Homo sapiens: one gene and its partners. The protein of the gene in region 1 interacts with the protein of each later gene in a pairwise test. Each region holds a gene or a part of one and is shown in the gene's direction. Other genes may lie near its edges.

What was found.
Region 2: the proteins of PIBF1 (region 1) and CCDC136 interact in a two-hybrid assay, tested with the Homo sapiens proteins (one large-scale study listed by BioGRID).
Region 3: the proteins of PIBF1 (region 1) and NEBL interact in a two-hybrid assay, tested with the Homo sapiens proteins (one large-scale study listed by BioGRID).
Region 4: the proteins of PIBF1 (region 1) and GMCL1 interact in a two-hybrid assay, tested with the Homo sapiens proteins (one large-scale study listed by BioGRID).
Region 5: the proteins of PIBF1 (region 1) and KIF9 interact in a two-hybrid assay, tested with the Homo sapiens proteins (one large-scale study listed by BioGRID).
Region 6: the proteins of PIBF1 (region 1) and POLDIP3 interact in a two-hybrid assay, tested with the Homo sapiens proteins (one large-scale study listed by BioGRID).
Region 7: the proteins of PIBF1 (region 1) and TSHZ2 interact in a two-hybrid assay, tested with the Homo sapiens proteins (one large-scale study listed by BioGRID).

What each region holds. Positions count from the first base shown.
Region 1 is NC_000013.11:72,784,827-72,789,234, forward strand, and holds part of PIBF1 (progesterone-induced-blocking factor 1), read left to right. Parts: intron 1-4,408.
Region 2 is NC_000007.14:128,794,693-128,799,100, forward strand, and holds part of CCDC136 (coiled-coil domain-containing protein 136), read left to right. Parts: intron 1-1; coding exon 2-76; intron 77-4,408. UniProt on the Homo sapiens protein: May play a role in acrosome formation in spermatogenesis and in fertilization.
Region 3 is NC_000010.11:20,809,677-20,814,084, reverse strand, and holds part of NEBL (nebulette), read left to right. Parts: intron 1-41; coding exon 42-146; intron 147-1,144; coding exon 1,145-1,316; intron 1,317-4,186; coding exon 4,187-4,279; intron 4,280-4,408. UniProt on the Homo sapiens protein: Binds to actin and plays an important role in the assembly of the Z-disk. May functionally link sarcomeric actin to the desmin intermediate filaments in the heart muscle sarcomeres.
Region 4 is NC_000002.12:69,832,002-69,836,409, forward strand, and holds part of GMCL1 (germ cell-less protein-like 1), read left to right. Parts: intron 1-4,408. UniProt on the Homo sapiens protein: Possible function in spermatogenesis. Enhances the degradation of MDM2 and increases the amount of p53 probably by modulating the nucleocytoplasmic transport.
Region 5 is NC_000003.12:47,244,546-47,248,953, reverse strand, and holds part of KIF9 (kinesin-like protein KIF9), read left to right. Parts: intron 1-867; coding exon 868-936; intron 937-1,476; coding exon 1,477-1,581; intron 1,582-2,701; coding exon 2,702-2,757; intron 2,758-3,442; coding exon 3,443-3,533; intron 3,534-4,029; coding exon 4,030-4,163; intron 4,164-4,408. UniProt on the Homo sapiens protein: Essential for normal male fertility and for progressive motility of spermatozoa.
Region 6 is NC_000022.11:42,587,151-42,591,558, reverse strand, and holds part of POLDIP3 (polymerase delta-interacting protein 3), read left to right. Parts: intron 1-3,986; coding exon 3,987-4,053; intron 4,054-4,408. UniProt on the Homo sapiens protein: Is involved in regulation of translation. Is preferentially associated with CBC-bound spliced mRNA-protein complexes during the pioneer round of mRNA translation. Contributes to enhanced translational efficiency of spliced over nonspliced mRNAs.
Region 7 is NC_000020.11:53,258,408-53,262,815, forward strand, and holds part of TSHZ2 (teashirt homolog 2), read left to right. Parts: intron 1-4,408. UniProt on the Homo sapiens protein: Probable transcriptional regulator involved in developmental processes. May act as a transcriptional repressor.

The sequences.
Region 1 (4,408 bases):
TTTTGTAGGCTCAATTTAAAAAATCTAACATATGAGGTATTTTGTTGTTTTTTGTTGTTGTTGTTGGAGACAGTCTTGCTCTGTCACCCAGGCTGGAGTTCAGTGGCACAATCTTGGCTCACTGCAACCTCCACCTCTTGGGTTCAAGCAATTCTCCTGCCTCAGTCTCCCACGTAGCTGGGATTACAAGTGCTCCCCACCATGCCCAGCTAGCTCTCTGGGATCACTTTTATAAGGGCACCAATCCCAACAGTGAGGGTTCTACCCTTATAACCTAATCACCCCAAAGGCCCCAACTTCCTGCTACTCACATTGGTGATTAGGTTTCAATATACAAATTTTGAGGGGAGAAAAAAAAATAAGCACACAAGACGTATTAGCCGTTGTTGTTTTCAACTAACATAGCATCCTTATCTGTTTCATCCCTTTCATTTTCTGTGCCTTTTATGGCCATCGGACTGAATTTGTTTGTTATTTGTCTGTGAATAGACTATGAGGTCCATGAGGACGGGGATGTTTTTGTATTCATGGTTGTATTTCCAGCACTTAGAACGGTGCCTGACACAAATTAAGTGCCCAGCTATTTCTTAAATGAATGACTGAACCCCATTTTGCTCTGATTAAACAAAGCCACTAGGTGGTTAATAGCATACCCAAGGCCATTCAGATGAAAGTGATAGAGCCAGATAGGATTCAAACCTAGGAAGTCTAAAGCCTATACTCTACACAAGTGAAGCTCCAAACACTTTCTTTTAGGTACCCTATACAGTCACCTACCTAGTCTAGGTCACTTGGTAGTTTATCCATGCATCCAGTGGTTTCCCATCCCTATTCCCTTACTCTTTTTGCATTTCACATGAACTCCATCTACCTTCACCTCTCCAGACCTTAGTGCAACTCATTGAAGAAACCTGAGGTTATCTCCCATTCATTAATTCACCCACTCAGTCAACAAGTATTTTTTTAAGTGCCACCTGTATACCATATCCAGACTTACATTTTGTTCAGCCACCTCTTGTATTATTTGTTTTCAACTTGCATTGTCCTTGGTTGTCAATGGCTTTGCTTCTTTTTAGGTGTAAGCTTTATATTATAGAAATGTTGGTTGATTCATGACAGGCTCTCTAGTGTAACAAATCCAAATTACAGTTCTAGATGCACACAGTTTGGGTTTTGAATTCCAGCCTTACTAAATTCCTTAATGTTTTTATTCCGTGATTTCCTATAAAATGATAATAGTATTTATTCCGTGGAATTATCGGGAGGATTAATCAATGTATGTAAGCTCATAGATGCTTGGTGTATACTAATAATAAACTTATTATTTACATATTATTTTATTTGTAGCTATACTTACTCAGCACAATATTATTATTTTTCTACTTCCATGGTGCTTAGTGTAGTTTTTGTTGTGGTTTTCTAGTTTGACTGAAAATGTAGAAGATTGCAATAGTCGTGTTCCTGAGTTTGACACATAATCATCATTGATCCCTGAAAGGCTGCTGTTTTTCTAATGTATTTATTCTTTTCATTCCTATAGCTCATTCCATTTCTTAATGCAAACATTTTAATGTTTTGTTTACATGTATTCTTGAGAATGTGTATCTTTTAACTTTACAGAAATGTAAATTATATGCTTTGTTTTAGTTCTCATCTCTTTTTTCCTACTCAGCACTGTTTTTGAAGTTATCTATTACTTTGTATACATCTAGTCCTTTGCTTCCAACTCTTATGTAATTCTTTGTGTGCGTCTACCAGTCTTTCTACTCCTACATTGCTAGGCATCCAGATTGCCTCCAGCTCCTTGCAACACATGCAGCATTAGACATTTCTCTTCTGGACCTCTGTGAGCATGTCTTTGACATATATAAATGTCTCCTTCATTTAACTAAGTGTACTGCCAGGTTATCTCCAAAATAGCTGCCCTGCTGTATATTAGTAGAGTTTTTTTCTCTATCATACGAGCACTCAGGATTCTCTGCTTGAAGACTCTTTAGGAATAAGATGTTTGCTCTCAAATATATGAAGAAATACCTATTGTAGAGTTAGCCTTCCATAATTTATTGAACCTAAAGCACCTCTGTTGTAAGATGCATCATTACATACATTGCTAAGGTTAAACACTTCCAGTTGAATTGTTAAGTGCCTTAGATTGTAAAATGCATTCCAATTTTAGAGATGTTAAAATGTGAGAAAGTGTGAGTCTGGAGTTGATGAAAGAATATTTAAAAAATATTTTTATTAAAGAATATGTATATGTATGTTAATGTGTGTATGTGTGTATATATATGTTTACTTCTTACATGCCCTGGGAATAACACCTTAGACAGGCAAACAGCACTACACACATGATATATATTTTTTCACTTATTTGTTTATGTATAAATTGGTATGTGACATATTTCTTTATATGTTTTAAAATAACACCTTTATTTGTATGTGTTATTATATGTTTAGTTATGTCTTTATTTTTGTCTTTATGTGTGAAGCACTCCAGATGAACAAAGTGCTACACTGTTTCTTGTGAGCAGTGATTCTAAAGCTAGTACACCCCACTGAATTTTGTCCCTCTGGTCGATTGTGAGGACTCAGAAGTATATTGGACTCCTGGTGTTAGAGCTGTTTGTTTTCTTGGTGTTTCAATGAGGTCCAGCTCTAGAAGAAAGCAAAGAAGGTTCATGGGGTATTTTGAAATGAACAGGGTCCCCAAAAGCCTGATGGATCTGGTAACACCACGCGGTATTTGATTCAAATCTATCTGGTAGCATCCTCTCTGAATTTTTAAGTGAAGAAGAAAGGGGCTCAATTTGGTAGTGCTGCCATATACTTTTTTTTTCTTTTAATTTTTTTGAGACAGAGTCTCACTCTGTTGCCCAGGCTGGAGTGCAGTGGCATGATCTCAGCTCACTACAACCTTCACTTCCTGTGTTCAAGCGATTCTTGTGCCTCAGCCTCCCGAGTAGCTGGGACTGTAGGCCCGTGCCACAACGCCCAGCTAAGTTTTGTATTTTTGGTAGAGATGGGGGTTTCACTATGTTGGCCAGGCTGGTCTCGAACTCCTGGCCTCAAGCAATCCACCCATTTCAGCCTCCCAAAGTGCAGGTGTGAAGCCACTGCACCCAGCCATGCCATACACTTTTTAGCCTGGGCAGGAAACTTAAAGCCTAGGTCTTGAAAGAAAGGTATTTTTAATTGGTCATTCATTCTCCAAAGCTTATTGAGCATCGTATGCTAACGTTATGAAAAATAAATTTTCCTCACTAGACTATAGCTCCATGATAATGGTTGGAAGTCACAGGAAAGGTAGATTTCTGCTCAGTGTAAGCCTGTTATTGCTATTAACATTGAAATGGCCTGATCTTAAGTTTCTGAGCTTCCTGTCATTGGAAGCATTTAAGTAGTCCTGAATAGTCAACTGTTAATAAATATTATAGGTATTTCTATTTTGGAAAGAGATTGAACCAACTGCCCAGGGTTTCAAGGATTAAGTTCAGCAGTTAATACCAGAGACTTGAAAAATGGTGGTTTCTGGTAACAGAGACCTGGAAACCATGGCTTAAGCAAGAGAAGGATTTTGTTTCTTTGGTATAACAAAAATCCAAAAATAGGTATTTTAGTAGACCTCAAGTGATTACTCCTTGATCGCATTAGGAACCCAGGCTCCTTTTAACCTTAGCTATTTTCAACATATGCTTTTCACCTGAAATCATAAGATAGCTTATCTGCCTCCAGTATTGTGTACATGTAAAAGGTGGTAATAAGGAGAAGGATAGTGGAAAAGGGGGCATGTGCCAAATGAGTCAGTCCTCTTTAAAGAGTTCTTCCAGAAGTTCAAGCCAGTGGCCTCAATTGACTAACATTGTATAGCATGACCACCCCTACCTACAAGGGATGGGAAGCTAACTGGACATGTTGTTACTAATAAAAACCAGAGTATGTCAGAAAGAAGGGAAGGTTTGATGTTGGGAGGCAAGTAAGTTTTTTCTTCTACCCATCAAAATCTTTTTTTAGTTAGAAAATATTTGAATCTAACATGTCCCACTCCATTGTGGCACCAATACAAATGGTTATGGATACATGGCTTTATTATAGTTTGTTACTAGGAATAGTCTTGGCCGTATTGATTTGAATTCTCCATGTCTAAAAACAGGAACAAGCAGGTCCAAGAACACTTTAAAAGCACTTCCCACTCAGCTGCTTGTTAACTGAAAGAATGTAGAAAAGCTACTCAGAAGAGTAGCTATTCAGGCCAAACTTCCTGATAGTAGAGCATTGTTAGCTTTACACTTTTATTTCCATCTATTGCTGCCTAGATTCCCTTCCTTACTGTACTTCTTTATTCCTTTCCTCTTCTCTGTTCTTGCCTTTCAAATTTTTAGACAGGGTCTCACTCTCTTGCCCAGGCTGG
Region 2 (4,408 bases), on another chromosome or scaffold:
GGGCTCCTGGAGGATGAACGGCTAGCCAGCGCCCAGCAGGCAGAGGTGTTCACCAAGCAGATCCAGCAGCTCCAAGGTAATTCCCAGGACTTGGACTGGAGGGAGGTGGCCATCCAAGTGGTCACCTAAGTACTTTTTTCCTGAGGGTTTGACTGAAGCACAGCAGATAAAAATAACCAAATTCAGTAATTTCACCTCATTTTCCTCTACTAGTCTCACCCTTTTCCTCTCCTTGTCTCTCCATCCTCCTCTGTCCCCAGTTTTCTTTCTTTGCACATCTACCTGGCTCTTCTGTCCTCCCCTTCCATTTCTTGGCCTCCCTGTCACCTCCTGTCCCTGGTGGGCTCTTTCCTCTTGCCCCTTCAGCCTCCTCCTTCATACTGCATCCCTGTCCCTTTGTTCTCCTGGTCAGTGCCAGGGGTGGGTGATCCAAGTTGAATTCCAAGCCGGATTCCTTTTTCTGGTTCCTCCAAGGATGGCATGGGAAAGCATGAAGCCAATGAGAAGTGACTGGTGGGGCCTCTCTGCACCTATTAAGAGAGACAGATGACAGCACTTCTGTTGCTGCCTGGGACCTGAGCTTGTGGGCCCCAAATCCCTTTTTGCCAACACCCACGTCCCTTTGTCTCTGGGAAGCAGCAAGGCAGATGCCCCACATTCCACCACACCACCAAATAAAGAGGCAGCTTTTGTTACTTCTGTGGGCCTCCGGAAGGTTTAGGGGAGCTGCCCTAGAAAACGGCAGGGACTCTGGGGAGAACTGAGATCAAGCCAAAAGAAAAGTATAAATGGAGAAAAAAAAGGAAGGCCAGGAAGCAGGCCTGGACAGGAGCAAGCAGAGGTGTAAGTGGGGAGGAGAGGAGACGGGGACAGAAAATGTAAGCAAAGGTAGATACAGGAAGGGTGGTCAGTGAAGGGGCTTGCAGAGGAGGAAAGTGGCAGGACACGTGTCACATAGGGAAGAGTGTGGGCATTGATCTGGGATGACCTAGATTCCTGGGCCCAGCTATACCACTTAGAAATTGTGTGATCTTGGGCAAGTCACTTATCTTTCTGAGATGTCATTTCTTATCTGTAAAATGGGACTAATTTATTTATCACCTATTTATGAGGTGCCTTTATACTTGGAGGACCAGCTGTGAATGAGACAGACCACATCTCTGCCCTAATGAAGAGTACATTCTAACGGAGAGAGGCAGAAAATAAACAACACAAGTTCAGATGGCAATAAATGCTATGAACACGATATAATAATATGATACAGAGAGGAGGTGGGATGGGAGTTTATTTTATTTTATTTTGAGACAGAGTCTTACTCTGTTGCCCAGGCTGGAGTGCAATGGCACAATCTCAGCTCACTTCAACCTCTGCCTCCCAGGTTCAAGCGATTCTAGTGCCTCAGCCTCCCGAGTAGCTGAGATTACAGGCATGCGCCACCACACCTGGCTAATTATTGTATTTTTAGTAGAGATGGAGTTTCACCATGTTGGCCAGGCTGGTCTTGAAGGGAGTTTATTTTAGATATGGCAGTTAGGAAAGTCATCTTTGAGAAGATGACATTTGAGCTAAGACCTGAATAATGAAAAGGATCCAGCCATCCAAGATCTGAGGGAGGAGCATACCAGGCAGAAGCAACAGCAACTGCAAAGGCCCAGAGGTGAGAATGAGCTTCATTTGTTTGAGCGACAGAACAGAGGCCACTGTGTTTGCAGCAAAGTGCACGTGGAGGACCCTGGCAAGAGAACGTTCTGAGGCAGGCAGAGGCCAGATTACAGTGGATCTTGTAGGCCAGCCAAGAGGTTTGGCTTTCATGTTAAGTGTGGTAGAAAGCCAGGAGAGGGTCTTAGCCAGGAATGGGATGATACGATCTGCTTTACATTTTTAAAAGAGAACTTGGCCACTAAGTGGAAACACTTAAGATGGAGGGAAGTGACTCAGAACAGTGAGTCCTGTCAGCAAGTTACTGCAATAGTCCAGTCAAGAGATGATGGTCGCTTGAGTTAGGGCTGTAGAAATGGAGATGATTCAGAATATATATATATATATATTCTTTTTTTTTTTTTTTTTGAGACGGAGTCTCGCTCTGTCGCCCAGGCTGGAGTGCAGTGGCGGGATCTCGGCTCACTGCAAGCTCCGCCTCCCGGGTTCACGCCATTCTCCTGCCTCAGCCTCCCAAGTAGCTGGGACTACAGGCGCCCGCCACTACGCCCGGCTAATTTTTTGTATTTTTAGTAGAGACGGGGTTTCACCGTTTTAGCCGGGATGGTCTCGATCTCCTGACCTCGTGATCCGCCCGCCTCGGCCTCCCAAAGTGCTGGGATTACAGGCGTGAGCCACCGCGCCCGGCCCAGAATATATTTTGAAGGTGAAGCCCTCGGGATTTGCTAATGAATTCGATCAGGGGATAACAGAGACATGAAAGATGACTTTGCCTTGAGAAAATTGATGGAAGGTGGTGATGTTTATTGAATTGGGAAAGACTTGGCAAGGGGTAAGTTTTGGGGCTAGGGGAGCCATTTAAAACATGTTTTCCTCTGTTGAGTTTGAAGTAACTGTGGACATCCAAGTGAATATATTGAGGCAGTTGGATATATAAAGGCAGAACCAGGGAGAAAACAGGGCCGGAGATGTAAATTTGGAGTCATTAGCATATAATTGGCATTAGAATCCATGGGAAATAATGGTGCAGTCACATGGAGAGACACCAGAAGAGGAGAAAGGGTCCAGTCCCAGAGACACTCCAGTATTTAGAGGTCCAGTATAGAAGGAGAAATGAACAAAAGAGTAAAGTGAGAGGAACTCCTGGAGCATGTCATGCCCTGTAAGCCAGAGCAGAAAGTGCTTCAAGGAGACAGTGATCCACTGTGTCAGGTTGCTAAGTCAAGTGAGATGGTCTTGGATTTGGCAAGAGAGAGGACCCTGAGACATCTCAGTGCATGGAGGCACCGATTGGATTGGGTTTGGAGAGGAAATGGGAGATGAAGGTGAGTACCGATAACTCCAGTAGTCATTTTGAAGAGAAGCAGAGAAGTAAGGGAAATAGGGTCAAAAGATTATTTCTTTTCTTTTTTCAAAGGTAGGAAATGCTAGATCATGTATAATGAAAGAAAAGATCCAGTACAAAAAAAGGCCTTTGCCTGGAGAAGGAACGTTCCTCCATTCAAACGGGCGAAAAGTCAGAATTGAAGCAGAGATGCAGGCAGGAACTACCTGGGAAAATAGGGTTCTATTTTTTTTTTTTTTGAGACGGAGTCTCGCTGTGTCGCCCAGGCTGGAGTGCAGTGGCGTGATCTCGGCTCACTGCAAGCTCCGCCTCCCGGGTTCACGCCATTCTCCTGCCTCAGCCTCCCGAGTAGCTGAGACTACAGGCGCCCGCCACCACACCCGGCTAATTTTTTGTATTTTTAGTAGAGGCGGGGTTTCACTGTGTTAGCCAGGATGGTCTCGATCTCCTGACCTCATGATCCGCCCGCCTCTGCCTCCCAAAGTGCTGGGATTAAAGGCGTGAGCCACCGCGCCCGGCCGAAAATAGGGTTCCAGAGCGATTCTCTCCTCAGTAGAGTTTTTTGTTTGTTTTGAGACGAAGTCTTGCTCTGTCACCCAGGCTGGAGTGCAGTGGCGAGATCTTGGCCCACTGCAACCTCCTCCTCCTGGGTTGAAGCAATTCTTCTGCCTCAGCTTCGCGAGTAGCTGGGACTACAAATGCCAGCCACCACACCCGGCTAATTTTTGTATATTTAGTAGAGATGGGGTTTCGCCATTTTGGCCAGGCTGGTCTCCAACCCCTGATCTCAAGTGATCCACCAGCCTCAGCCTCCCAAAGTGCTGGGATTAAAGGTGTGAGCCACCGTGTTTGGCCGACAATACCATTTTTTTAGGGCCAGAAGCACCTAAGAGAGAGTTGAACCCTAACATCAAAAGCATATTAGGGAGGTGGAGGTTGGTCTGTTTCTCCAGAACACCCACCCCAGACTCTAGGGCCTTTGTCCTAATGGCCAGCTTCCTCTTGTGTCTCCCTAGCTAGACAGACCTCACTGTGCTGCTCAGTAGTGGGGGTAGAGCGGACTTTTCTTCCAATAGGAAGTCAGAGAATCTAACAGGAGATTCTTGGCCTTGGCACGCAGTTAAGGATCAGTTAATAGTTGTTGAATAGATCAAGGAGACGTAACAGCTAGGATCATTCTAGAACTGGAAAGATTGGCAAAAGACATGCCCATAGTTCCACATGTGAGCTCAGGGGAGCAGGGTAGATCTTCCCCTGAGATGCCCTCACCACTCAGCATCTATCTATGAAGCGTGTCCAAATTTGTCTTCTTTGAAAGTCTAGATTCTATTCTAATTTTTAAAAAATATCCAAACAGGGCCAGGTGTGGTGGCTCATGCCTGTAATCCCAGCACTTTGGGAAGC
Region 3 (4,408 bases), on another chromosome or scaffold:
GTTTTCTTATCATTGTCTTATGCCTACTATTTACTTTGCAGGTAAAATATACCCAGGACCATAAACAGATGAAAGGTAGACCAAGTCTGATTTTAGATACACCTGCTATGAGACATGTTAAAGAAGCACAAAATCATATTTCAATGGTAGGGTCCAACCAGATCATTCTTAAAACATGCTAAGGAATGGGCGGATCCAGTGCACGGATGGCATTACTTCACTATTAATCCGATAACTAACAAAGCATGGAAATGTGGTTGGCTTGTCTTTTGAGGGAGGGGCATTTCTAATCACACTGAAATGCAGTGGAAACATTTAGTCTAATAAAATGATTTTTCTCAGTGACTTTTTCTGGTGTGTCTTTATTTCTAACGTGACTACTGTAAACTCATAGTGTGAAAGATATTTGTGTAGACTTCTTTCCAATTAATTCTAAGACAAAATTTGGTCTGTTTGCCTGTCATAAAGGATATGAAAAGAAGTGTGTTTTTAAAGCTGTGTTTTTAAAAATGTGTGTTTTAAAAATTATATTATCAGATGTAATTTACCTACCATAAAGTTTGCCCATTTAAAGTGTTCAATTCAATGGTTTCTAGTATAATTTACAGTTACACAACTATCTCCTGGACCTAATTTCAGGACATAAAAAAAGTATATTTTGAAGTATAAGTTTTTGTAATTATATTAAAAGTGGTATATATTGTTACCTATAAAATTTCAAACTGATTTTAAATAATGCCATTTTCATGAATGATTGCCTGGAAATAGATATCACTTTATTGCATACTGAAGTTGAAGAGATAGGAAATTTAATTTATATTTAAATTAGTATATTTTAGGAAGTAACCAGGATTTGAGAATATGTATTTTTACAAGCTCTCATTAATAATATATATATAGTTTTATATATAATTTAAAATAGATATGAGCTATAATGATTAAAAACTTTGTGAAAATATCAGCACTTGATTTCTGATGCTAAGAAACTGAAGTTCCAGACTTTAGTTTTGGAGTATTTGGAAAAGATACATACATGTAGACAATCTGCACGCAGCCAGTGCAGTGTACACCTGTCATTTAATAAAAATGTTGTGAAAGAGGTAACTATCCGCAAAATTCAGTATGATGATTTTTCCTTTTTCAGGTAAAATACCATGAAGATTTTGAAAAAACAAAGGGGAGAGGCTTTACTCCCGTCGTGGACGATCCTGTGACAGAGAGAGTGAGGAAGAACACCCAGGTGGTCAGCGATGCTGCCTATAAAGGGGTCCACCCTCACATCGTGGAGATGGACAGGAGACCTGGAATCATTGTTGGTAAGCTGACGGCGTTTGTCGGCCGGTGTGTGTGGTCGAAAAGATCATGCTTGCTCTAGCTTCAGAATTACCCTCTTGAGTCATCTGACTCCTCATCACATGTTGGTTGTGGTACCCAATTTAAAATGGACCGCAGGTAAAGTATTATTTTTGTACGATGTGGAATGGGATTTCTGGCATTCACCTGGTATCATCTCAAGTCTTTTCTATTATTGGAAGCTCTGTCTTTAATACCTTGCTAATTTTAAGAATGTTCCTCCTTGTATCACACACCAGGGCCTGTTGTGAGGTGGGGGGAGGGGGGAGGGATAGCATTAGGAGATACACCTAATGTAAATGACGAGTTAAGGGTGCAGCACACCAACGTGGCACATGTATACGTATGTAACAAACCTGCATGTTGTGCACATGTACCCTAGAACTTCAAGTATAATAATAATAAAAAAAAGAATGTTCCTCCTTGTTAAGCAAAGAAGCAGCAGAGATATGAGTGATCACAATGGTTGAACAATTACTTTGTTTTTCTTTAAAAAGAAAAACAAAATAATTGTTTTTCTGCTTGGTTGACGTGTTGTTCTGTTGACCTCATGTGCATAAGTGGCAGAAATAACCATATTGCGTTTAGGTCCTTTTATCAAAAACAGACACGCCATGGGCGTTCTGATGGTACTCCATAATAGTAATAGCTCATTTTAAAAATATTATTTCTGGACTGGAATAGTTGAGAGCCATCTGAAAGTCTTGCAATTAAGAGAGCAAACTTTTATTCCTGCTATCTGTTCCTTATAGTCAGGAGAAATCCTAGAAGGATATTTGTTGAATGGTGGCTGAGATATCAGAAAAGATCATACTGAAGTATAAGGCAGGGCTAGGAAGGATGATTATTGATTTTTCAGTCTGTATCAACAACTGAAGACTATTGTCTCCTTCAGAGCAGTTAACCTCTGAATTATGTAGTTACGTAGCTTAAAGAATATTTTTGGTATATGCCACTCAGTAATATCAGTGTTAGGTTTTCTTCATCTTCAAAAGTAGGAGCTTATTTTTTGGTACTAGTGAAAGGCCATTTAGAGATAAGCTAAATTTGACAGGGTAATGTCTTTACAAAACCAGGGTGCTAAAGTCAGAGCAGCACTAAGTAACTTGGATGATTATACTAAAGTGACTCTGGAAGTATTTTCTGAAGAAGGATTCCAAACATGTTTGTAGGCAATTGATAGCTTTGCTGATCTGCCTGAGTTGATTACTTAAAAGGATCACATTAAGTTGGATGGATGAGTTGTGATGTTTTCATTCAATGTGACACCAAATTAGAGTTTCATTGCTTTGTGCTAAAGGGATGGAACTATCTTAAGGGATAGTGCAGGGGTTCTGATTTATCTCACTTAGGGTGGAACTGCTAAAGTCTGTACAGCTTACTTCCAGGCCCTGCACACATCAGAGGTCAGGAATGATGGTGAGGTCGTTGCTAAAAACCATGAAACTGTCTAGACCGTGGGCTCTCAGAATTCAGTACTCAAAACCATTGAGGTTGAAATTATGATTGTTTTATAAAATATAAGATGTATGACTCTAAGTTATTTACTTACTTGGCAATCCAGAAGTCAGTTTATTTGTTCTTATTGGGAAGAACTGTTTTCCATTGAAATTTCCATAATTGGCCAACATTAAACTTTCCAATGAGCCAGCTTCTGTATCAGGCATGAAAATACACGTTTAGAGATTTTCTGAGTAATTCAGATTAAGCCAATTTGTGCTGCTTCTATTTTTGTTGGAGGCTCTGCTACTTCTTACGAGCTGTGTAACCTTGGCCAAGCTACTCAATTTCTCTGTGCCTCAGTTTCCTCATCTACAAAATGAGGATAATATGTATGAAACTTAAATTAATTAGGTGTTAAATGAGAAGAGTGCCTGGCATATGGTCAGCACTACATAATATTAATTAAAAACAGACAAGCAAATTTCCAGTTCCATTTTACAAATTAATTGTTTTTGCTGTAGCCCCATTTCTGCCGTATGTCTATAACTAGGTTTTTCTTTTCCAGTTGTTGGTACAGCTGTAAACAGCTTATTTTAGGATCTGATGCCCTTTTGTTGGAGAGACTGGTGAATTCAGAAGTTATTAAAATAAGAGGAGAATAAAGTGGTTTGCACAGTCTGATCACTGACTATGGCAGGGATCCATTGACAGCAGGAAGCTGATATTATTTCTCTTTTCATTCATCATATTTCCTTGCTGTGTGCCTTGCTTATAACACTTTTTAAATAAGTGTATCTAATAAGATATGCATTCCCTAAGATACACTTAGCTTGCACTCACAGACTCAGAATGAAAACTAGGCTTGCCACCATTCCACATTTTAAATATTCATTTCTGTTATAGAAAGGGACTTTTTTTTTGTTTGTTTTGTTTTTTAAACATAAACTTCTCAATTGTTTCCTATGAATTACTCACATGTCCTGAATCAGAAACTATAATCAAACATTTTGCTTGTTTCAGCCTGTGGAGAGCAAGAGTGACTGGGGATTCAGGGGTGCTGTGAGGGGATGCATATAGCTGCCCCATGTGCTCCTGTGTTGTGTGATGGGTCACAGGTACTTCAGCAAGGTCTGATAGGGCAGCTCAATGAATAGAGCAGGCAACTTCAATCTGATTACAAAGATTTCTTAACAGATACTTGTGAAAGCAAGTATTTTTTCATTCTCTTCTGAAGTCAGCAGCACTGTGAGTTTGTCTGTTACATGTTTGCTTCTTATATCTATTCCTTTGCAGACTTTGTCTTGACTCTTTTGGGTACTGGCTTTTTTTTTTTTTTTTCCTTTTTTAAATTCCTTCTTGATGAGTGTTGATTTCTTCCTTTTGGCAAAAGACCTCAAAGTTTGGCGCACAGATCCTGGCTCCATCTTCGACCTTGATCCCCTGGAAGACAATATTCAGTCTAGAAGTCTCCATATGCTCTCTGGTATTACTCACTTTTTAGTTCATCCCATTTATGTGGTTTTGTCCCAAAAGTGAACCACTGTGAACTGTAGAGGTTCATTGTACTGTGTAATGTAAATTTTAAAGCTGAGAATTTGGCAAACCAAAAAAA
Region 4 (4,408 bases), on another chromosome or scaffold:
CCTGAGGTCAGGAGTTCAAAACCAGCCTGGCCAACATGGCGAAACCCTGTCTCTACTAAAAATATAAAAACTAACCAGTCGTGGTGGCAGCTGCCTGTAATCCCAGCTACTCGGGACGCTGAGGCAGAAGAATGGCTTGAACCTGGGAGGCGAGGTTGCAGTGAGCCAAGATCGCACAACTGCACTCCAGTCTGGGTGACAAAGTGAGACTCTGTCTCAAAAAAAAAAAAAAAATTCTGACTTCTTGTCTGTATTCTGCACTTAATAGCCTTATTTCCCTCATATGTAAATTGGAGATATAAATACCTGCCTTTTAGGCTTTGACAAATATGAGAACAAACAAATGCACAATGTCTAGAATGTAAGCATGCAGTAAATATGTCTCCTTGATGAATTGGCCCCTTTATCATAACAAAATGTTCATCCTTCTTTATCCCTAGTAATTTAGCCACTACCACATACATACATACATATATACATTTATTTATTTATATTTAGGGGGTACAGCTGCAGGTTTCTCACATGTATATAACAAGTAGTGGTGAAGTCTGGGATTGTAGTGTATCCATCAGCCACTTTCTTTTGATAAATGTCTGAATGATATCTTATTTTCCCTCCTTTCACTTTTTACCTGTGTATATTTAAAACAGATATCAAGTAAACAGCATATAGTTGAGTCTTGCTTCTTTTGTCCAACAGGACAATCTAACCTTTCAATTAGTAGTTAGACCACTTATATTTAACGTAATTATTGAAATATATGTCACAGTGCATTTGAAGGAGAGAAATCACACAGCAATTTGAATACAGGAAATTTAATATAAACATTATTAACAAGGCACAGAGAATTAACTACTGAGGACAAAACGCTAAGGTAAAGAGATCCCTAGAAAATACATGTAGTAGTCAGTACTTCTAAGGCTGAGGCAGAATAGCCACAGAAGGAACAAATTTGGAATAGGTGCCCCCACCCCTTTCCCAAGCTAAGATTCAGATGATGTTGAAGGAGGTGTGGCTGTAGCCCACTGGATGGTGGAAAAGTTTGCTCAAGTGTGGTAAGCTGAGGCTGGCAAGTAGGACACTGCCTACTAGGATGCCAACAAAATTATTTGGAGGCCTTTTGGCCCAGAAGGCTAAAGATATTTACTATCTAGACCTTTACAGAAAAAGTGTACCAACTCCTAGACTACATGAGTGGACTGGAATGGAAAGTTTTTAAGGCAAACCTTTATCGGAAAATGCATATCAGAATTTAGTGTCTGTATATTACTGGAAGATGCTTGGATTATTCAGCCCAATACGGATGCAGGGTGTAAGAAAATACTAAGACGGGCCAGGCGTGGTGGCTCACGCCTGTAATCCCAGCACTTTGGGAAGCCAAGGCAAGCAGATCACTTTAGGCCAGGAGTTTGAGACCAGCCTGACCAACACAGTGAAACCCCGCCTCTACCAAAAAATACAAAAATTAGCCAGGCTTGGTGGTGCACGCCTGTATTCCTAGCTACTTGGGAGGCTGAGGCAGGAGAATTACCTGAACTCAGGAGGCGGAGGTTGTAGTGAGCCAAGATTGCGCCACTGCGCTCCAGCCTGAGCAACAGAGTAAGACCCTGTCTCAAAAACTAAACAAATAAAAATTTAAAAGAGAAAGTATTAAGATGTTGAATTTTGTGTGTTGGCCCTAGTATATACTTCCTGAGGTTGTCTGGTGTGCTCTCCCACATCAACAGACCACTTTATGAGAAGTTTTAGCTTTTAGGCCCAACTTCCACCTCATACCTTTGTCAACTGCATGTTCTACTTTTACATTTACGAGACTGTTAAAACCCACACTGTTCTACAACCAGATCTTGAGTGTTTTGTCCGTAGCTTGTCTCTAAAAAATTGAAACGACATTACATAGTTATAACTAAGTAAATATTGTTTCAGAAGAGTTAAGTAGTATGCTAGGATTATAAATCATACTTGATGGGTCCAGTGTCACAACTGCTTGTCTGTTCAAAGGGAGAAATTTTTCTAACCTCACAGTCATATGGAATCTTTTCTTGTATTCCATCAAGTGCTTAAAGTCAGGCCCTGCTTTTGTTTTTATCTTATTTGGACAGTGCCTTTTTTTGTATTGCTTTTTTATTGTCCTAGAGTTTATAATGGCCTTTCCCCCACTCTTGTCAAAATAACAATATTCCTTCATCATGGCTTCGGGTTTTTCTGAAAAAACACAGAAAAGTCTTTTGAAACACACTTTCATGGAATCCTTCTCTAAAACCTAGACCTCTTCCATCCTCCTGTTCCAATCTGGATTTGTCTACTCTTATGCTGGGACTTACTTTCACCCCATCTCTAGGATTGAATCCACTATTTTGTGTAGCCTGCATTTCTTTCTCGCTTATTTTAGGAACTATTTAATACATCCTCAAGTATTTTCCAAGGAAGGGTGCAAAAGGGGGTAATTTGTGCGTATCTAAATATAAATTTAGTCTCTTTTACTTTATTCATCCTCTGACTGGGTATGGAAATCTAAAGTAACTTTCTTCATATCTTTGATGACGCTGCTTCATTGTCTTCAGGCCTACAGTCTTGATGAAAAATTTGATTCTGGTGTAATTCTCTTTTCAGGTGACCATTTTTGCTCTCTGGAACTTGTGGAACTTTTTCTTTGGTATTTTGGGATTTAATTAGAATGTGCTTAAGTGTGGGTCTTTTAATGGCCTTGGTACTTGTTGGATCCTTATAATCTGGAGACTCATATACTACCTTAGTTTTGGGAAATTTTTTTCCATTAATTTCTTCCATAATTTCCTTTCGCTTCTTATCTTTATTTTTTCTTTCTGGGATGCCTCTTAACTGGATTTTGGATTTCTTGGATTATGCCTGTCTCTTCTTTTTTCCTTTCTTTGTCTTTTTGCTTTATGTTCTGGGAAATTTCCTTTAACTTTTTCATCACTATCATTAGGTTGTTTGGCCCTAACTATGAGGTATTTCTTTTGGACCAGGGGTGAAAATTACTAAAATATGAAATGTGCTGTGATCCATGAAAGCTTGGGAACCTCTGCTCTACAAAGCATGCCCCACCTATAACCAACTTCGTAGTCTTCTTACTCAAAGAAGAGGTACCTTGGAAATAGATCTATTTACTCAATTAAAACACCATACATCAGTTATTCATTCTTAAATATAAGTGGACAAGCAAGGAAGGATCACCCAACATGAGGAAGAAAAACAAACAAACTATTCTTTGGTTTATTTGTTTTTTTAAATTTCAGTAATCATGTCTTTAGTCTCTAAAAGCTCTTTCTTGTTCTGAGTGATCCTTTATCATAGCAGTCTATGGGGTAAATATAATAATCTCAGATCTCTAGGTATACTGGTGAGAGGGTGTTTTTTTCCTCTCTTTTCCCTGAATTATATGTTTCCAGGGGTGGAGGGAGTCTCTCTGTCTCTCTGATATGCTCTTATTCTTCCTCATGGTGGGTGATCCTTCCTTGCTTGTCCACTTATATTTAAGAAGGAGTAACTGGTGTATGGTGTTTTAATTGAGGAAATAGATCTATTTCCAATGTACCTCTTCTTTGAGTAAGAAGACTACGAAGTTGGTTATAGGTGGGGCATGCTTTGTAGAGCAGAGGTTCCCAAGCTTTCATGGATCACAGCACATTTCATATTTTAGTAATTTTCACCCCTGGTCCAAAAGAAATACCTCATAGTTAGGGCCAAACAACCTAATGATAGCAGATTGCATGGTATCTGAAAGATGTTACTGTGTTTCCTTCGAATTTAAAATACTCCACATGCCTCTCTGAGTTGGCTGTGGTGCTCTAAGTTCAGATGGTATCCTGAACTGGTGAATTTCACACACGGTTTGGGAACCATGACTTAGGGTGAATGGATTGGGAGTGAACAGGCCACAGATTCTTTAAATTTCAGAATGAGGATTGCTTTGTCTGGGCACCAGCAGCTACACTACAGCCTTAGATCTTCCATTAGCTTTGTGCTATTTCTAGAAAAACCTTGGAATCTTTTTGCCTCAGTATCTGTACTCTCCTTATCTATACTCTGTGTTCATAGAGTGGAGAAGGCACTAGTTTCCCCATTTTCTGCCCCTCTTCTTACTTCTGCCTTTGTTTCCCTGAGACCTCATCCTTCTTTTCTCCCAAGGGTTCTGATGGGCAGATAAGCTTAGCCTCCATCCTAGTCCTCCATAATGTATTTTTTGGCTGTGGCTGTCACTGTTCTTTTTCATTTGAATTTGTTTTCTAACTTTCAGATCTGTATAAATCTCTCATCAAGTGATGAGCCTACCCTCACCTTTTCCTGGTGTGGACTTATTCCTTTTTTGTACTCTTAATCTTTAATGTAATTTGGGGAGGGATGGGAAGCCAACATGTGTACATTCTGCCGTCAGGAACTGGAA
Region 5 (4,408 bases), on another chromosome or scaffold:
TACCAGCATGGGCAACATAGTAGGACCCCTGTCTCTACAAAAATTAGCTGGGCATGGCAGTGTGTACCTGTAGCATGACCTACTCAGGAGGCTGAGGTGAGAGGATTGCTTGAGCCCAGGAGGTTGAGGCTTCAGTGAGCCATGATGGTGACACTGCACTCCAGCCTGGAGGACAGAGCAAGAGCCTTTCTCTAAAAAGAAAGCATTCTGGTGCTGGGTATGGTGGCTCATGCCTGTAATCCTAGCACTGTGAGAGGCTGAGGTGGGTGCATCACCTGAGGTCCGGAGTTCGAGACCAGCCTGGCCAACATGGTGAAAACCTGTCTCTACTAAAATTATAAAAATTAGCCAGGTGTGGTGGCGGTCACCTGTAATCCCAGCTACTCAGGAGGCTGAGCCAAGAGAATCACTTGAACCCGGGAGGCGGAGGTTGCAGTGAGCTGAGACCATGCCATTGCACTCCAGCCCGGGCGACAAGAGCAAAACTCTGTCTCAAAAAAAAAAGAAAGCATTCTGGAGTCTGTAGGCTGCACCAAAAGGGCCATTATCCTGGTAGACTGGAAGGAGCCTGGGGCCCCTGGGAGTTGGGGTTTGAGGTGGCTGTGTGGCTTGTGCTGTCTCTTCTACTGGCAGTAGCAAAGGCCAGGGGACTGTTCAGGTCCTCCCAGACCCTAAACTCACCCCAGTTAGGGAAGAGTCACCAGTCGGGAGGGAATCACCAGAAGCTGAAAGCATACCCTGTGGATCCAGGAATGGCCAGGATGTCTGGGCACAGAATGAGGAATTGTACTTTTGCTGTGGAAGAGACAGGGTAGCTTCTCTGATGATCCTTCCTGTCGGCCCCCACCCTACCATGTTTCCCGGCAGAGAATGGTCAAGAACCTGGAGAAGGAACTAGCACTACTCAAGCAGGAGCTGGCTATCCATGACAGCCTGGTAAGAGGCTAGAGGCAAAGAAGGAGGGCAGAGGTGCTGGGGTAGGGGGTGACTAGAGGGACTGGGGCTAGGGGCAGACAGCATCATGGGTCAAGGCCAATGGTGGGCGGGGTTGGGGGGCAGGCTCAGTGGCAGGAAAGGGGCAGCAGCAAGGGTCCATGAGGACAGGGGTTGGGAGCAGAGTCCTCCAACGGTCCTGAGGGGCCTCGAGGCAGAGGCAGCGCATGCCTCCCGTCCTCGCCTTTCTCATGCTGCAGAGTCTGCTGGGACTCAGCCAGCAGAGCCTCTGTCTGGAGTAGCAGGACCCATGTCTGAGGGTCTTTCCTTTCCTCCCCGACCCCATTATCCCTCTCTGACCCAAGCACCTGGCCTGTTGTGTCAGGCCCTCTGGCAGGACCCGATGATGAAGGGAAGGAGCCAGCTTGGGCAGCCAGGGCCTGTGCCCAGCCTCCCCACTTTGCCTCTCAGAATGGCCCCTGCCACTCCCCTGTGGGCTCAGGTTCTTGTTGCTTATCCACATGTTCTTCATCCTCCTTCAAGACCAACCGCACCTTTGTGACCTATGACCCCATGGATGAAATCCAGATTGCTGAGATCAACTCCCAGGTGCGGAGGTACCTGGAGGGGACACTGGACGAGATCGACGTAAGGAACCCCTCTGTGACCACTATGCTCAGCCAGCCTGGGCCTCCCAGTCCTGGGCACACCCCAACGCATGCTCTGCTGGCCTCAGAGCCTCATGTGAATGGGTGCAGTGGGTGGAGGGTGGTGCTGGACTCTTGATGTCAGGGTCCCTTCAGCTCATCTCAGGGGCACAAGCACAGGCCCTAGAGCCAGGCTTTCTAGGATTGAATCCCAGCTCAGCTGCCTCTTTGCTGAGTGACCTTGGCAAAATACTCAACCTCGTGTACTTCAGTGGCCTCACCTGCCTAGTGGGGAGGGAAACAGAGTGGGGATTAACTGAGCTGCTGCACCTGGGGTGCTTGACTGTGTCCGCAGAATGAAGCTGATGAAGGATGGTGGTCATGCTGGTTGTCTACAAGGTAGACCCCAGGGCCCATGTTGGAGTGGGCCAAGGAGGGGGAAACCACCCCACAAGGAAGGGTCCTCAGGGGGAAGGCTGCATCCTGTTTTCACAGTGCAGTCCATCAAACCCCTCTTCTTGGAGACATGGGCAGACCCCCCTGGCTGTTACTGTGGGCAGCTCCGAGAAGCAGGCCTGGGACAACTAAGGGATGGACTCTTCTGGCCTTCACAGGAGGGGCAGTCCCAAATTAACCCTTGATCAAGGGGAATGCTGTGGGCTTTAGGCTGGGGGGAGGCCAGTAACCTTCCTCCAGCCTCGTGTGTGTGTCTGTGCCCATGCAGACAGGACCATAAATGGGCTCCATCTGAAGACAGCAGGCAGAACCTTTTGGAAGTAAGAGAAAGCTGAGAAGTACATTTTATTAAAAAAAAAAAAAAAACCTTTAGAAGGTATTTTCAAGGTATAGAATCATTTCATTTTATAGAGGTCTCCACTTCGAAAAGGTGGTTTTTATAGCCTCAGCAAATACTTAGTTTTAAAATTATTAATCAGGTGTTTCTCTGCTCTGGAGGAGGGCTTGGCTGCCACTTCGCTGAGAGGCTGTGTGCACACGTCCTCTTCTCGAGACAGATGGTCCAGGGGTCAGCCAAGGGGTCTTGATTTCTCTACTAACATAGATGCCCCCTGGTCCCTCGAGGTGCCCTTGGTCTAACCTCTGCCTTGCTGTCTTCCCTCCAGATAATCAGCCTTAGACAGATCAAGGAGGTGTTCAACCAGTTCCGGGTGGTTCTGAGGTGAGAGACCCCCACCCCTACCTCATTCCTACATCAGGCTGCCATTTTCATCTCCTGCCATCTGGGCACTTGCCTCCAAGAGCTCCTCTTCTTGCTTGTGGATGAAGAGCCAAATCAGAGTCCTTGGGGGCATGCCTGGGTCCCTGGTGGATATTCAGTGAGTTCATTAATTGGACAGGAGGTGTTTATGGAGTGCCAGCTCTGAGAGTGCCCAGAGCAGGGCATTGTGAATATTCACCTTGTGAATATTGCAACACACACTCCCACCTCAGGAGGCATTTGTGGTTTATTTGGGTGCAAACATACCCATAGTCTGAGCAGCTTATGCTAGGTGGTGTCACTAAAGCTGGTCATGTGATTCCAAGTGGCCTCTTAGAGACAGAACCTAAGACAGAACCCCACATGGTCCCAAGTGAAGCTTACGGTCCTTATCAAGTGTCATCTTGGAGCAGACACACATGACATAAGGTAGCCCTTGTGGGTATGGGGGTCGGACAGTGGGTATATGCAATGGGGCAGGGGGAAGTGAGTCCTTTGTCCTTTTGTCTGGTCTGGTTCATGATGAAGGTGTGGCCCCACACAAGGGGCCTCACCCATATGACTTTTAACCCCAGTACTTGGTTCTTGCCCCAGTGGATTCAGCATGGCCCCAGGTACAAGCTGTTCTCTCTTGCTGTCTCCCAAGCCAACAGGAACAGGAAGTGGAGTCCACTTTGCGCAGGAAGTACACCCTCATTGACAGGAATGACTTTGCAGCCATTTCTGCTATCCAGAAGGTAAGCATAGTTGCTACTTGCCGACAGCACTCACCTCAGATTTCCCATCCTCAGACCTTTGCAGAGCCAGCAAGTATTAATGCATTAAACCAGAGCTAGGATTGCAACAGATAAAGGTAACACCAGAATGAACACAGGTGACCTGTGTTAAGAGTAAACCACTTTTGAATTAAAAATAATTTCCATAAGGTAGAGACATGGATAATAATATTAAAGACGATTTCCTGGAATTAGGTTGGAAATAAGCTTTAAGATCCCCAGAGTATGGAATGAGGTGCCATACTGGTGAGGGGGTGCATGTGGAAAGTGGACATTTGGCAGAGTGGTCAGGGACCGCTCTACAGGGGACAGCCTGAGGCTGGCATCAGCAGCTGTCAAACCTTGGTGTGTATGGTGAACATGTCCACCCTGAGCCTTGGGCCATATACATGTGGGTCCCCAAGGGGTCCAAGCCCTTAATCTAACTCACAGACCTTTGGCTGGCCTCTCTATGTAGGCGGGGCTTGTGGATGTTGATGGCCACCTAGTGGGTGAGCCTGAAGGACAAAACTTTGGACTCGGAGTCGCCCCTTTCTCTACCAAACCTGGGAAGAAAGCCAAGTCCAAGAAGACATTCAAAGAGCCACTCAGGTGAGTGACCTTGCCGCTCTGCCTCCTCAGCAGCTGGCCCTCCTCGGTGGGTGCATGGGAGGATGTGCACTGTTCCCACTTTCCCCCTGGTGTCTCAGCTACTGGGTTGGCACAATGGACGTCACTGCTGCCAATACTAGCAAGTCTGTGGGGCCCGGGCTGGGGCTGGTTTGGAACCGCACAAGAATCATCTCTCGTCCTCACAGCAACCTGGTGAGGTGGGAGTTAATGTCTTCATTACACTG
Region 6 (4,408 bases), on another chromosome or scaffold:
AACAACAGACTTTATTGACTTGAGGTTCATATTTTTCATCTCCAGACAGCCTGTAGAGAAGAATTCTGTCTGCCATGCTCCTTTTCCACTCATTTGTTCTTTCAGTATGTATTGAGTGCCTACTGTGGACCAAGGCCCTGTGCTAGAAGTGGAGAAGCAGAGACTAATAAAACAATACAACAATAAAAAAAATTACAAATAAAAGACCTGGAGCCTTGGCTAAATCTTGGCACCTGGGTGAACTCCCCTGGGTGAGTCAGTGGAGTTCTGATTTGCATTTCCCCATGGCTAATGATGTTGAGCACCTTTTCATGTGCTTATTGGCCATTTGTATGTCATTAAAGAAATTAATTTTGTTTTGAATTTCTGTTCTTTTTTTGTTTTTTCTTATTTTTTGTCATATGTTTGGATGTGGAAAGATACTTATTTTCCTTTTTCTTTCTTTTTTTTATTTTTATTTTTTATTATTTTTTTATTTTTTTATTTTTTTTGAGTTTCTCTCTGTTGCCCAGGCTGGGGTGCAGTGGCGTGATCTCAGCTCACTGCAACCTCCGCCTCCCCGGTTCAAGCGGCTTTCCTGCCTCAGCCTCCCAAGTAGCTGGGACTACAGGTGCACGCCACCAAGCCCAGCTAATTTTTTTGTATTTTTAGTAGAGATAGGGTTTCACCATGTTGGCCGGGCTGGTCTCAAACTCCTGACCTCAGGTGATCTGCCCACCTCGGCCTCTCAAAAGTGCTAGGATTATAGGCATGAGCCACTGTGCCCAGCTATCTTTGGAGAAATGCCTGTACAGAATCTTTGTCTGCTTTTTAAATACTGAGTTGTAGAAGTACTTTACATATTCTTAAGTCCCTTATCAGATAAGTGATTTACCAATATTTTCTCCCATTCTGTAGGTTTATTTCTGCTTTTTAATGTATTCATATGCAGTATAAGGACTTTTTGGTTAACAGCAGACCACATATATGACAGTGGGCCCATAACATTATAATACCATATTTTTACTGTATTTTTTCTACGTTTAGATGTACAAATACAGTTGCCTACTCTACTCAGTAGAGTAACATGCTGTACAGCCGGGTGTGGTGGCTGAAGCCTGTAATTCCAGCACTTTGGGAGGCTGAGGCAGGAGGATCGCTTGAGCCTAGAAACTTGAGACCAACCTGTGCAACGTGGCAAGACCCTGTCTCAAAAAATAAATTAGCTGGGCGCGTGGTGGCGTGTGCCTGTAGTCCCAGATGCTGGGGAGGCTGAGGTGGGAGGATCACTTGAGCCTGGGAAGTTGAGGCTGTAGTGAGCTGTGATCGTGCCACTGCACTCTGGAATGTATTCCCATGGTTAAATGATACATGACTGTATGTGCATTTACAGCTATATATTCTAAGCATGGCTGTAACTGCATTCCGTGTTTTGGTATATCATGCCTTCATTTTCATTCATCTTGAATTATTTTCTAATCTCCCTTGTGATTTCTCCTTTGACCCATTGGTTATTTAGGATTGTTTCAATTTCCATATATTCATGAATTTTCCAGATTTTCTTTTCTTCTATGAGTGTTTAAGGAAAATATGTATTTTCTTGTTGTTAGGTGGAATGTTCTGTACATGTCTATTATGTCTTGTTGCTTTGTAATGTTTAAGTGCGTTTCATTGTTGATCTGCTTGGTTCTATCTAGTATTGAAAGTGAAATACTGAGGTTCTGTTTTTTTTTTTTGATACGGAGTCTCCCTCTGTCACCCAGGCTGGAGTGCAGTGGCATGATCTCAGCTCACTGCAACCTCTGCCTCCCGGGTTCAAGCAATTCTCCTGCCTCAGCCTCCCAAGTAGCTGGGATTACAGGTGCCCACTGTCACGCCCAGCTAATATTTGTATTTTTCGTAGAGATGGGGTTTCACTGTGTCAGCCAGGATGGTCTTGATTTCCTGACCTCATGTTGGCCAGGCTGGTTTTGAAGTCCTGACCTCAAGTGATCCGTCCACCTGGGCTTCCCAAAGTGCTGGGATTAGAGGTGTGAGCCACTGCACCCGGCGAGATCTTTATTACTGTTGGTCTGTTCCTTTCACTTCTGTGTATTTTTATTTTATATATTTGAGGTTCTGTTGTTACTTGCATATATGTTTGATTGTTTTCTTCCTGATGAATTGACCCTTCAGTCAAATTTAAATCTCTCTTTACCTCTAGTCACTTTTTTTGTTGTTTTAAAGTATATTTCATTTTATATTACTAATAGCTAATAAGCTAATAAGTAAAAGACCAGCTTTCTTAGGGTTGCTATTTGAGTGATATATCTTTGTTCACTTTTTTTTTTTTTTTTTGAGACGGAGTCTCGCTCTGTCGCCCAGGCTGGAATGCAGTGGCATGATCTTGGCTCACTGCAACGTCTTCCTCCCAGGTTCAAGCGATTTTTGTGCCTCAGCCTCCTGAGTGGCTGAGACTACAGGTGTGCACCACCACACTCAGCTAATTTTTAGTATTTTTAGTAGAAATGGGGTTTCTGCCATGTTGGCCAGGCTGCTGTCAAACTCCTGGCTTCAAGTGATCTGCCCATCTCAGCCTTGCAAAGTGCTGGGATTACAGGCATGAGCCACCAAGCCTGGCCCACTCTTACTTTCAATCTTTTTCTCTCATCAACTGTAAAAATGTGTTTCCTAGGCTGGGCACAATGGCTCACTCCTGTAATCCGCCAGGCGGATCACCTGATTGGGAGTTCGAGACCAGCTTGACCAATATGAGGAAACCCCATCTCTACTAAAAATACAAAATTAGCCAGGTGTGGTGGTACATGCCTGTAATCCCAGTTACTCCGGAGGCTGAGGCAGGATAATCGCTTGAACCCAGGAGGCGGAGGTTGCCGTGAGCCGAGATCGCACCATTGCCCTCCAGCCTGGGCAATAAGAGCGAAACTCCATCTCAAAAAAAAAAAAAAAGAAAGAAAGAAAAATGTGTCACCTATAGAGAGTGTATAGTTAGATCTTACTGGTTTTTTTTTTATTTGAATTCAATCTGACAATCTGTCTTTGGATTGGATTATTTAATCCATTCATATTTAATATTGATAATTAGGTTTATTTCTTCCATTTTACTTTTTTTTTTTTTTTTTTGAGGTGGAGTCTCGCTCTGTTGCCCAGGCTGGAGTGCAGTGGCATGTGGTCTCTGCTCACTGCAAGCTCTACCTCCCAGGTTCACGCCATTCTCCTGCTTCAGCCTCCTGAGTAGCTGGGACTACAGGCGCCCGCCACCACACCCAGCTAATTTTTTGTATTTTTAGCAGGGACGGGGTTTCACCATGTTAGCCAGGATGGTCTCGATCTCCTGACTTCGTGATCCACCCGCCTCAGCCTCTCAAAGTGCTGGGATTACAGGCGTGAGCCACCGCGCCCGGCCCCATTTTACTTTTTTGTTCCTCTTCAGTGGCTTTTCTTTCACATTTTTTCCCCAATATTTTAATTCCTTTAATGATGTATTCACTAACTTAACTCGAGTAAGATATGGAAATGTTACTCCCACATGGCCCTGTTCCTTCTTCCTCTTTTTTGTGCTATTACCGTTACACATGTTATGCTTTGTATACAGTGGGAGTGTGGTCTTCCTAGTGCTTCATCCTTTGTAGACAGAGTAGAAGCCTGTACATAATGCTTTTGATCATCTTTTCACTGAATTTGATAGCATAAACCTTTTCCCTTACTACTTGGATGGCTTCACATTGAGTCTCGTTTCTCCCTCACTTCCCACTCATCTCTTCCTGTATGAAGCAAGGTTTGTGGCCACTTTGCCTCTTGGTGCTCCACTGCTGAGGTTTCCTCACGCCCTGGGATTTTCTTAGTGTCTGGCTTGACTGGAACCTAGCAGCCCCATCTCCATCTGTGGAGCCAGAACTGCCAGTGGTGGGTGCTTTGACCATTGATAATGGAGGTACAGCCCTTGTCCTCTTGTGTGAGGAGCCGAGGTCTCATAGCAGAGCCTTTTTCTTTCTTTGGTTTTTCAGGGCAGCCGATGAAGTGCAACCTTCACATGAATGGGAATGTTATCACCTCAGACCAGCCCATCCTGCTGTGAGTTCCAAAGGCGGGGTGCTGGGGAGAGGCAGCTCCGTCCATCTCTTTTTGTTCTAATGGGTAAACTGCCTGCATCACAGCTCCCCTTCATCCCCCCATTCCGTTTCCTCTGTTCTAATGGCAGCTGGCCGTTTCATATGCTTAAACTTGACCAAAATGGTTTGCTTTGTTATTTCCCCAGGGCTTGACCCTATAGGGACTAGCATTATGATCTCGTTCTCAGCTTTCTGATTTAGAAATATCTGAGTGGAAGTTGGAGGGGGAGGCTGCTTGGGTCTCCTAGCTGTGTGCATCATCCCGGGAACAGAGAACTCCACTGCATGATTGGCTCTGATGGAGACAGTGCCAGATG
Region 7 (4,408 bases), on another chromosome or scaffold:
ATATTTCAAATCCAATAGTGGTGGGTTGAAACCATGGTGAAGAGGACAAATAGGTAATATTTATTTGTACTATAACAAAGACCACTTTTCCACCTGTTAGGTTTGTAATCTTTTTTAGAAAATTAATATAATTGCCAAAACACTCTGATATGTAGATAGGGAGAGGTAAGGAAAAGAAAGCTTGATCCATCGTCAGTCAGAATCTGGAGTGTATGATACCTGTTCTAGGGATTCAAAGGTGAACCAATAATTTGGAAAAACATATACAAAAGGTACTTCCAAATCCATTAAATACATAGATAAGATAGCCATTTTGGCACTTCTCTGCATTTGTACAGGATGAGTATATCTAATTTGGACCTCGAAAGCACCGTATTGGTGTTTTCATTATACAAAACCAAAGCTCCATCCTTACAAGCACCATTAGGCTGTGGTTCTGAGAGGATTGCAGAAAAACAGGTTTGAGTGTTTGGGACTCACTCAAAGCCATGGGCGTGTATGTATGTTTTGTAAACAGAAAAGATGGTGCAGGTACTGGCTGTGTTTGTGTTCATCGTAAAAATACTCCTATCTGCCTGAATGTTTCCCCCATCTGTACAAAGGTCGATTCTTGGTGCTTTGGTCACCTTAGAAAAAAATGCCTCCACCCCCGGGGTCCTCTTTTAGAACAATATTTATGCAATACCTTGCCCATTGCTTAGAATGATGCATGTAAGGTTTCTAAATGGTCATGAAATGACATCACTGTTGTCTGGAACTCTAATCTTAGTTGTAATGCATAGTAGCACAAATTGTGCAAAGTGACATGATATTTTAGAAAGTATGATCAAGATTTCTTGGAAACTATGAGAGCTTTAACCTATCAATGTTTTTTGAAAGACACAACTTTTGATCTGAATTTTCTTTCCTTTACCAGATATATCTTAAATCCTGCAAAATGCTCTGCCAAATATTAAATGCAACTTTTCGTTAAAAATTTCATTAGAAAATATTAAGTGTGCATCTCTATTTTAGGTCATAAGTAATCTAAAACAATTTCAATATGTATTTGTATATAGCTTTAAAAGCCACATGCTCTTGACTAATAGAAATTAAACAGAGAGCAAATCAATGAGTCTGAAATGCATAAAGGCTTGAAATTATAGTCATCACTGTGTAATATAGTGTACAAGCTTAACAGCACACCTAGCCTTGAAATTGTTGGCAGGAAAGTATTCTAGTCCAATGAGCTGCCACTTCTGTTGTGGGCGGCTTGATAAAAACACATATTCAGGGTGAAAAGCGCGTAAGGTTGCCAGACAAAATACAGAACGGATGTCCAGTTAAATGTGTATTTCAGATAAATGACAAATAGGTTTTGAGTATAAGCCTGGCCCAAATATTGCATGGGCCATACTTATATTTTTAAAATATTCATTGTTTATCAGAATTCAAATTTAACTGGGCATCCTGTATTTTTATTAGCTAAATCTGGCAACCCTAACAGCATAGATTATATGGCAGTTGGGAAGAACAAAATAGCCTGGACAAATTAATATCTATTAATGGCATCAACCATTCCTTCCTCCATTAAATAAATATTCCTTCCTTTCATCCTCTTTTCCCTCCTTTGTTCCTTCATTCCTTCCTCTTTCCCTTCTTTCCTTCCTTCCTTTTTTCTTCTTTCCTTCCTTCTTTTCTTCCCTCCCTGCATTCCTTTCATCCTTCAACAAATACTGGTTGTGCTTTTACTATGCACCGGACTCTATTATATTTAACAATGGAAGTATAATACTGAACCAGAAGTTCTACCAATTGTAATAGCAAAACATGCCAAGCCTTGCAGCAAGCACTTTGCAAACATTATTTTGCTTTATTCTCACAAACAGCCGTATGAAGTAGAGGTTGATTCACTCATGATAGGGAAGAGAAAATGGAGGCAGAGAGATTCTGCCTGAATTCCCCAAGGTCCTACAATCTCTGAGCCTCACTCATTCATTATGACATATCTAGAAAGCCATCGTTCCACAGCAAGCACTGTGCTAATTCCCAGGGAGTAAGCCATAACCAGGACAAGAGTCTGCCTTTGAGGCTAGTGGCAGACAAATAGATGAAAAACTCTAGGGGAAATGCTGAAAGGAGCACACAGGAGGTGGCTCTGCCTGGTTCTGGGGGAAGCCGGGATGGGGAACAGTGGTCTCAGAGGCAGTGTTTGGAAAAGAATGCTGGATTTAACCCCCAACTCACTTGCTTTCATGAAGACATGCCCCACTTCTACATCTTTATGATGTGGACATAATATCCTTCTCATAGGAAGGTTGTAAGAATTAAATGTATGTAATTATTTTCCTTAAAGCCCATAGTAGGTTTACAAGAAAGCACATAGTAGGTCTATAAGAAAAGCAAGTTCTAGGTAGAGCCACTACATGCTCTTACCATGCTCTGTAGCCTCACCTGCAGCGTAGAGAACTTGCAGCAACTTCTCAACTCTAACTAATTAATAATCCTGCAAAATCTCAACCTGCTGTTTGATTCAGATAACAATGACAGTGAAACTACCGTTGACTGGCCTCTTTTTATAACTCAGGCATAATTATTCATATTATCCTCATTTTGCAGAGAGGTAAACCAAAGCTCAAAGAGTTTCATGATTTGTCCAAGAAGACAAAACTAAACCTGGAGGTAGGTTTTGAACCCAGGACTGTCCAATGCTCATCAACTTTCTCCTGCTCCTTGGTTTCCTCCTCCTTGCCTGATGGTTTCTAGGTAATACTCATGGCTGGATGTACCTCCAACAGCCCAGAGAGAAAGCTGTAAAATGTGGCCTAAGAGCTGAGAGGAGAAAGGACACTTTCCTGGGCCTTTTGGAGGCTCCAGCTATCAAACATTGCAACTCAGGGGCCCAGGACTGACCCGCAGGGTGAAGCAGAACATCCTTGTTCTCTTTCTTTTAATGCTCTTGTTCAATCAGGCAATTATACATTTGCCATATGGTGTCTAACCAAGAAATGACCCAAATTCCAGTGAAAATACATACACCTAATATTAAAAAAGAACATCCTCATTCTGACCCTCAGGAATTCATTTTAGGGAAAGGAAATGAGAACTGAGGAAACAGGGTCAAGTACAATAATCTAGCATCTCTCAAGCAGCAAGAAACAAATGCATCGTCTTCCTTAACGTTTGCATTTTTTCAAAAATATTTGGCTTAACTCCGTCTATGCATCTCAGCCTCCATTGCACCTTCCCCCCTCATTTGGACTTTTGAATGCTCAATCCTGACGTGTATAATTTGGTGCTTTAATATAGAGTAACATTATTTTTCATTTACTCCAATCTGCCATCAGTATCATCTTTTCATTTAACCAGATGCAATTCTTTTTTCTTTCGCTAAATTGAAAATCCATGAGCGACAGGGAGTGCAATGTTTTAATTAGCTCATATTTTTTATATGGATTTATGTCTTTAAAATACATTTGTGTAATTCTTCAGCTAAATTAAAAACGTCTTTGCGAAAGTGAGGAGGGGAAAATAAAGAGCTAAATTGTGTCATTAGCTTAGGTGGTTGCAGATGAGGAGCAGAATCTGGTGGAGGGACACACAATCGCCAGAGCTGCTCTCTGTGAGGATCTTGAACTTGCCCTTCCTGCAGAGAAGTCTTTCTCCATAAAGATCTCTCAAAAATGGCTTGGGGAGGATTTTTTTTTAAGGCCTCTAGTAAGTAAACAAGCAGTTACCTTCACTGAGCTAATTTGAAACCCAACCTGCCACCAAACAAACAGAGAAAAAGAAGTCATAATGATAAACAGTTTTCCTTGCATTTCTCTTTGTCTTTTTCTTTTTTTAACTATCAAGTTTAAAGCTTTCCACGATGCTTTTTTCTACTTTCTAGGAGACAAGTGACATTCTGTGGTAAATGGGAGAAAAAGCCATGCAGAACTGAAATCTCTCTAACGCATTGACACTAACTTGCCCTCTATTGTTGGAAATGAGCAGGCGTTCATGATTGTTCATCAAACGGCTCCTAATGCAGTTAAAGCATTCAGCTATAATTTCTCCTTGCATTTATAATTACTGTCATAGACTGCACACCTCGGTGAGCAGATTAAAGCTATAAACTATTTAGCCTCGGCTCTAAGACGAGGAACTTGATTTGTCTGGCAGGAGTTATTTGTTAGGGAGCTTGACACTTCACATAAAAATGACTCAACTTGATGAAGAACAATGCAGTTTTAGCAATGTGGGGATTTTAAATCAGTCATGATGCCACGCCCTGCAAGAATCGCAGGGCAGTTTGTTAAATGATATGTAGGCCAGGGAGATAAGGGAATGTGTTAAGGGTACCAAAATAGAAGAGGATTTGGTGTGCAGTTGCTTTCTTTCCCGACTCTCTCCTGGAAGATCAGGAGTTTGTTGAAAATCAGTGCAT